Linked DNA regions of Homo sapiens. The protein of the gene in region 1 purifies or fractionates together with the protein of each later gene. This does not show direct contact. Each region holds a gene or a part of one and is shown in the gene's direction. Other genes may lie near its edges.

Region 1 (3,753 bases):
TGAGGGGTTAATATCCAAATATATAAGGAATACAATCCAATAGTAAGAAAGGACAAAACCTGAATTAAAAGTAGGCAAAAGATCCAAAGAAATCTTTCTCAAAAGAAGACATAAAAATGGACAACGGGTATATTAAAAAAAAATGCTCAACATCACTAATCATCAGCGAAATGCAAATTAAACCCACAATGAGATATCACCTCTGACCTGTTAGAATCGCTATTTTAAAACATAAGAAAGATAATAAGTGTTGGCAAGGATGTGGAGAAAAGGGAACCGTTGCACCCTGTTGATAGGAATGTAAATTAGTACAGACATTATGGACAACAGTATGGAGGTTCTTCAAAAAAAATAAAAATAGAACTACCTTATGATCCAGCAACCCTACTACTGGGTACATATCCAAAGGAAACAAAATCAGTATATTGAAGAGATGTCTGCAGTCCCATGTTAATTGCAGCATCATTCACAATTCTCAATCTGAGTGTCCATCACTAAATGAATGGATAAAAATATGGTACATTTATATACACAATGGGATACTATTCAGCCTTTAAAAAGAATGGAATGCTGTCATTTACAGCAACATGGATGGAACAGGAGGATATTGTGTTAAATGAAATAAGCTAGGCACAGAAAGACAAATATCCCATGATCTCACTTATATGAGGAAGGTAAGAAAAGTTGAACTCATGCAAGCAGAGTAGAATGGTGGTTACCAGGCGGTGGGGTAGGGGGAGGGAGATAGGGAGGATTTTGAGAAGTTGGTCAAAGGATACAAAATTTCAGTTAGATAGGAGGAAACATTCATGAAATCTATTGCACGACATGGTGACTATAGATAATAACAATGGGTTGTATTCTTGAAAAATGCTAAGATAATAGATTTTAAGTGTCCTCACCCCCGAAATGATCAGTATGTTAGGTAACGTTAACTAGCTGGATTTAGCCATTCCACAATGTATACATATTTCAAAACATGTTACTTACGATAAACACGTACAATTTTTACTTTTCCTTATGTACGTCTTCATCTGGCTGTTCATTTTTATCTTTTATACTATCTTTTATAATAAACTGGCAATAGTAAGTAAAGTGTTTTCCTGAGAAACAACAAACTGGAAACAACTGTTTAGCAACAAGAAACTGCCTGACCAGGTAGAAGGACGTGGTAGCTCTGTATGTATTGATATGGAATATAGTCTGAGATAAATTGTTTAGGAAAATGAAAAGCAAGTTGCCAAAGAACCCACAGTATGATGTCATTTATGTTGGAAAAAACGCCACAACGATGTGTGAGTGTGCACACTGAATGAAAGAAAATTCTGGAAAGAAACTAACGGCCAGCAGTGTCACAAGGGGGATAGGTAGTTTATTTATTTATGTGTGCGTGTGCAAAGTTCCGTATTGTAAGAATTTGCTACAGCCTGTGTTATTATAAGCTTTGTAATGAAACAGGTAGAAACTGAAAAAGTTTAATTATTCCCAATTCAGTTTAGGTTCTGTCTCCGGAAGACTTTCCCGGATTCCCCAGCCCCCACTCCCCACCCCATCTTACCACCCCCTCTGCCAGCTCTGAGTCTCAATTTTCTTTTCTGTAAGGATTTTCATCATTTAACCTTATTTCTTCTGAATGCACTAAATGGTAGTTATCCTAGCACTTAAGAGGATGTCGGAAACATGGTTCATTGTCTGACCCTTCCGACTCTGACTTGTATGAGCACATTTTGGGGGGAATGTAGGAGTCAGGGGAAGAGGAGTTCCAAAAAGAGACTACTAGAGGGTACAGCTGTCCCGGAAGAGACTTCTGAAGAGAGCAAAGCGCGTCCGACGTTTTTCTCGAGAGGCGCCGAAGTTTTCCGGAAAGAGACGACCAACTGAGAGGTGGGCCCCCAAAGCCGGCTGCGAGAGTCACCGAAGATTTCCGGAGAGCCAAGGAGTCGGGAAGAGCCACTTACTGAGCGTTGCCGAACGTGTACGGAGATAGCCGAAGAGGCGGAAGGCGGGGCCACAAGAGCCCTTCCTGCAGGGAACCTCAGGCTTCAGAGAGCCGAAAAGTTGGGAGGCGTAACCACTTACAGGCCGGAAGTGTCCGGGGTGGACGCATTCGGGTAGCCGAAGAAGTCCCAGGATTGCCGAAGAAGTCCCAGGATTTCCGAAGCGAGCCGAAGCATCGCGACAGTTTTCAGAGACAGCTGATCGGTTGGAGCTGTTGCGCCGAGCAGTCATGGCGGCGGCCAGAGCTACTACGCCGGCCGATGGCGAGGAGCCCGCCCCGGAGGCTGAGGCTCTGGCCGCAGCCCGGGAGCGGAGCAGCCGCTTCTTGAGCGGCCTGGAGCTGGTGAAGCAGGGTGCCGAGGCGCGCGTGTTCCGTGGCCGCTTCCAGGGCCGCGCGGCGGTGATCAAGCACCGCTTCCCCAAGGGCTACCGGCACCCGGCGCTGGAGGCGCGGCTTGGCAGACGGCGGACGGTGCAGGAGGCCCGGGCGCTCCTCCGCTGTCGCCGCGCTGGTAAGGTGGGCCGGGATCCCGGCGTGGGCGGCCCCGAGGCTCTGGGGCCTGGGCGGGTGAGGGACTCCCCTGCGCTCCGAAGCTGGATTTCCCTCAGTTTCTCCTTCTGTGCCTTCTGCGGTGTCCGGCCTTTCGGAAATGTTATTCTTTCATCCCTTTTTTCATTCGTTAAGTCTTAAGAAACCACGTGGCCATGCAGCGTCAAGCTTTTGTCCTGAGGCCGTTCTGCCTGGTTCAAATCTGGGATCTGTCATTATTGCTCAATGTTGAACATGTTTAACTTCCCTGAGCCTTGGTTTCCCCATTTGACTCGTTTCAATTTTCGATCATTATCTTTCCATTTATTAGTTTTAAGAAACATGTAATGACAAGTACTTGCCCCACTGGAGCCAGGCTCCCTGGGTTGAAATACTAACTCTGCTGCTTGTGTAGCCTTTCAACAAGTTATTTAGCCTCTCAGCCTCGGTTTTCTCACCTGTAAAATGGGAGACATAGTAGCAGTATCCATGTCATAGGGATGTTGTGACCATTAGAGGAGGTATGTGTGTCACGTATTATGTTCAAATGTGTGCCTGGCACATAGTGCCCAATAAATGTTGGATTTCATTAAATTGCCTATTTTTTCATTAAACATCATTGTGCGCCAGCACCATAAACTTTGTCCTCAGATGAGAAAGTGACACTCAGAGAGAAGTAACTTGCCCAAGGTTACACGGTTACTAAGTGGCCGGTCCAGGCCCTCAGCTCCTTATGCCTCTGACTCAGAAGCCCTGGCTTTTTACTTTTACGCTTCTTGCCTTTCTTTTATCAGTATTTTTTAGGTACCAGTGGGTACCAGGACATTGTTAAGTGCTGGGAGATCTGGGTGGGGGATATTCAGTAGCCAACAAGCGGACACATTGCTGCCCTTTCAGAGACTTAAGATTTCATGAAGTTATTTGTGTATTCATATTTCTGTTTTCAGCCTCATGATCTGTTTCGTTAAGCAGAGATTGTATTATAGCTGGCTTGTTTATTGCTGTATCCCCATTGATAACATCTCTCAGTTTCTAGAAAAGTATACTGAGCCTGGTTGACTTTCAGTAAAGATTCATTGAGTTTATTGGAGCTATTGTTCCTTGTATAGTAGCAGAAACTGAGGCTTAGAGAAGTTAATGTAATTTTAAGATTAGATTAGACAACTAATAAGAAAAGCAGCTGGGATTTGAACCCTGTCCTCTCTGACTACGAAGATGAACCTCGA
Region 2 (3,753 bases), on another chromosome or scaffold:
GGCCAAGATGGAATGTTGAGTATTTGGGATGTTAGACAAGGTACTATGCCTGTATCTCTGCTGAAGGCTCATGAAGCTGAAAGTAAGTATTGTGAAGATACAGAAAGTTTATATTGGGTGAGTTATATGACATATAATAAGCACCTTTCCATAATGATACATGTGGATCATTTTACATCATAGCTTTTAATGGCTGAATTGTGTAAATTTAAATAGTTATGTAATTTCTTTTTACTCGACATTTAAGTTCTTTAACATTTGTTTTTGTTTTTTTGGAGACGGAGATTCACCCTTGTTGCCCAGGCTGGAGTGCAATGGCGCTATCTTGGCCCACCGCAACCTCTGCCTCCTGGGTTCAAGCGATTCTCCTGCCTCAGCCTCCCGAGTAGCTGGGATTACAGGCATGCACCACCACACCTGGCTAATTTTATATTTTTAGTAGAGACTGGGTTTCTCCATGTTGGTCAGGCTGGTCTTGAACTCCTGACCTGAGGTGATCTGCCCAGCTCGGCCTCCTAAAGTGCTGGGATTACAGGCATGAGCCGCCGTGCCTGGTTTTTTTTTTTTTTTTTTTTTTAAAGAGACAGGGTCTGGTTCTGTCGCCCAGGCTGGAGTGCAGTGGTGCAGTCACGGCTCACTACAGCCTTGACTTCCAGGGCTCAGGTGATCCTCCCGCATCAGCCTCCCAAGTAGATAGGACTATAGGTGTGTGTCACCATGCCTAGCTGATTTTTTGTTGTTGTTTGTTTTTTTTTTTGTAGATATGGGGTTTCACTTTATTGCCCAGGCTGGTCTCAAACTCCTGGGCTCAAGTGATCCTCAGGAAGTGCTGAGATTACAGGTATGAGTTATGAGCCACCACATCAACCACAGGTTTAATTCTTATATCCAAAACTGTAGTTAGAATCCTTAGATATTTATCTCTGTGTGTGTTTTTTTTTTTTTTTTTTTTTTGGAGACAGGGTCTCTCTCTGTTGCCTAGGCCAGAGTGCAGTAGTGGTGTGATCATAGCTCATTGCAGCCTTGAACTCCTGGACTTACACGATTCTCCCAAAGTGCTGGGCATAGCCATTATGCCCATGCCCAGCCTTATGTACTTATTTTCTTAGGATAATTTTTTAGAAGTAGAATTGCTAGGCCAAACATTTTGCATAGCGCATTGACAGATTTTTCTACACAAAAATAATACCAGTTTAAGCCAGGCACATTGGCACATGCCTGTAGTTCCAGGCTCCTCCTACTCAGGAGCCTGAGGCAGGAAGATTGCTTGAGCCTGAGAGTTTGAGGCCAGCTTAGGCAACATAACCTCTTTAAAAAGTTAATAATACTAGTTTAATCCAGGTGAGTGGCATGCACCAGCTTCTCAGGAGGCCGAGGCAGGAGGATTGCTTGAGTCCAGGAATTCAAGGCTGTAGTGCATTATGATTGCACCTATGCACTCCAGCCTGGACAATATAGTGAGACCCCACTCCCTGAAAAGTGATAAAAATCATACCATTTTATATGCCATAGTGAAGTGTGCAAGAATGCCCTTTTCCCATGCAAATGCAGGCTGTCATATTTGTTAATAAATGTTGTGCTCCTCAATTTATTGTTGCATCACATCATTTTTTTTAACATGAACAATAGATTTATAAGCTTTTTTTTTTCTTTTGATTCTGGTGGAGATGATTTAGCCGGACAGAAATTTTTCATTTTCTCACTCTGTCTTTGATATCATGCCAGAATGGATTATCCTTTTTTTTTTTTTTTTTTGAGACAGAGTCTTGTTCTGTCGCCCAGGCTGGAGTGCAGTGGCACAATCGCGGTTCACTGAAACCTCTGCCTCCTGGGTTCAAGCCATTCTTCTGCCTCAGCCTCCCTAGTAGCTGGGACTAAAGGCATTTGCCACCATGCCTAGCTAATTTTTGTATTTTTAGTAGGAATGGGGTTTCACCATGTTGGCCAGGCTGGTCTCAAACTCCTGACCTCAGGTTATCTGCCTGCCTTGGCATCCCAAAGTGCTGGGATTACAGGTGTGAGCCACTGCGCCCGGCCCTATATATTTTTTTAAAAATGGGGTCTCTCTCACCCAGGTTGGAATGCAGTGGCATGATCACAGCCCACTGCAGCCTCAGCCTTGCCTCCCTGGCTCAATCAGTCCTCCCACCTCAGCCTCCCGAGTAGCTGAGGCTACAGGCACGCACCCCTACTACACCCGGCTAATTTTTTATTTTTTGTAGAGACAGGGTCTCAATATGTTGCCCAGGCTGGAGTGCAGTGGCATGGTACCTCACTTAAGCCTCAACCTCCTGGGGTCAAGTGATCCTCTTGCCTTGCCCTTCTGAGTAGCTGGGACTACAGGTATATGCCACTACACCTAGCTAATTTTTTTTATTATTAGATTTCTATAGAAATTATGATTCCATAAAAGATTTTGAGGAAATGATGGCCGGGGGCGGTGGCTTATGCTTGTAATCCCAGCACTTTGGGAGGCCGAGGCAGGTGGATCACCTGAGGTCAGGAGTTCGAGACCAGCCTGACCAACATGGAGAAAGCCCGTCGCTACTAAAAATACAAAATTAGCCGGGCGTGGTGGCACATGCCTGTAATCCCAGCTACTAGGGAGGCAGAGGCAGGACAGTCACTTGAACCTGGGAGGCAGAGGTTGTGGTGAGCCAAGATCGCACCATTGCACTCCAGCCTGGGCAACAAGAGTGAAACTCCGTCTCAAAAAAAAAACAAAACAAAACAGATTTTGAGGAAATGAGGAAGACTGGTATCTTTCAGAATTGAAAGTGATTTTGGAATATATAGAATTTCTTTGGGGCTGGGCACGGTAGTTCATGCCTGTAATTTTAGCACTTTGGGAGTCCAAGGCAAACAGATCTCTTGAGCCCAGTTGTTTGAGACCAGCCTGGGCAACATGGAGAAACCCCATGTCTGTTAAAAATACAAAAGTTAGCCAGGTATGGTGATACATACCTGTAGTCCTAGCTACTCAGGAGGCTGAGATAGGCGGATTGCTTAAGCCTTGGAGGTCAAGGCTGCAGTGAGCCATGACCATGCCATTCTGCACTCCAGCCTGGGCGCCAGAGCAAGACCCTGTTTCAAAAAGAGAGAGAGAATTTCTTTGAGTTGAATTATGTAGAAGTTTGTCACTGACCTATGTTCCTAAAGTATGAAGCATACATATGTGGGCTAAGAAATAGTTTTTCTTGATAAATAATCAACAAATAAAAAATAAAAAGCCCTCCATCTGAGACTGGATCCAAATTCTTGGAACATTTCCAAATTTTGGTTTGGTAGAAGTCAGTTGCTATTTCTGTGATAAAGACCAGAAGTATTCAGAATCTTGGCATTAACCAATATTGGATATTGCCTCTTAGAAATTCATTTTTATATTTCATTAGGATCTTTCTCAGTTTTTCCAATAATATAATCTTCATATATTAATGACACAGGAATTGAAAAATAAGACAACTTACCAATTTAAAAAAAAACTTTTCCGTAAAAGACAGTCATTCCTAGCTGGGCACACACCTATAATTCCAGCACTTTTGGGAGGCTGAGGCAGGAGGATTGCTTGACGCCAGGAGTAGAAGACCAAGGTAGACAACATAGCAAAACCCTGTCTCTATTTAAAAAAATAAAAATAAAATAAAATAAGCTTTTTCATAAAGTAATAGGGTTAAATGTTTTAGCAATGATTTTCTTTTCTTTTTTTTGAGACGTAGTTTTGCTCTTTTTGCCCAGGCTGGAGTGCAGTGATGC

Evidence for each region. The genes of interacting proteins can lie anywhere in the genome.
Region 2: the proteins of TP53RK (region 1) and NUP43 purify together in Homo sapiens (affinity purification with mass spectrometry; 5 studies listed by BioGRID and IntAct, with this or other methods). This does not show direct contact.

What each region holds. Positions count from the first base shown.
Region 1 is NC_000020.11:46,687,889-46,691,641, reverse strand, and holds the start of TP53RK (EKC/KEOPS complex subunit TP53RK), read left to right. Parts: upstream 1-2,197; 5' UTR 2,198-2,227; coding exon 2,228-2,510; intron 2,511-3,753.
Region 2 is NC_000006.12:149,732,800-149,736,552, reverse strand, and holds part of NUP43 (nucleoporin Nup43), read left to right. Parts: coding exon 1-82; intron 83-3,753. UniProt on the Homo sapiens protein: Component of the Nup107-160 subcomplex of the nuclear pore complex (NPC). The Nup107-160 subcomplex is required for the assembly of a functional NPC.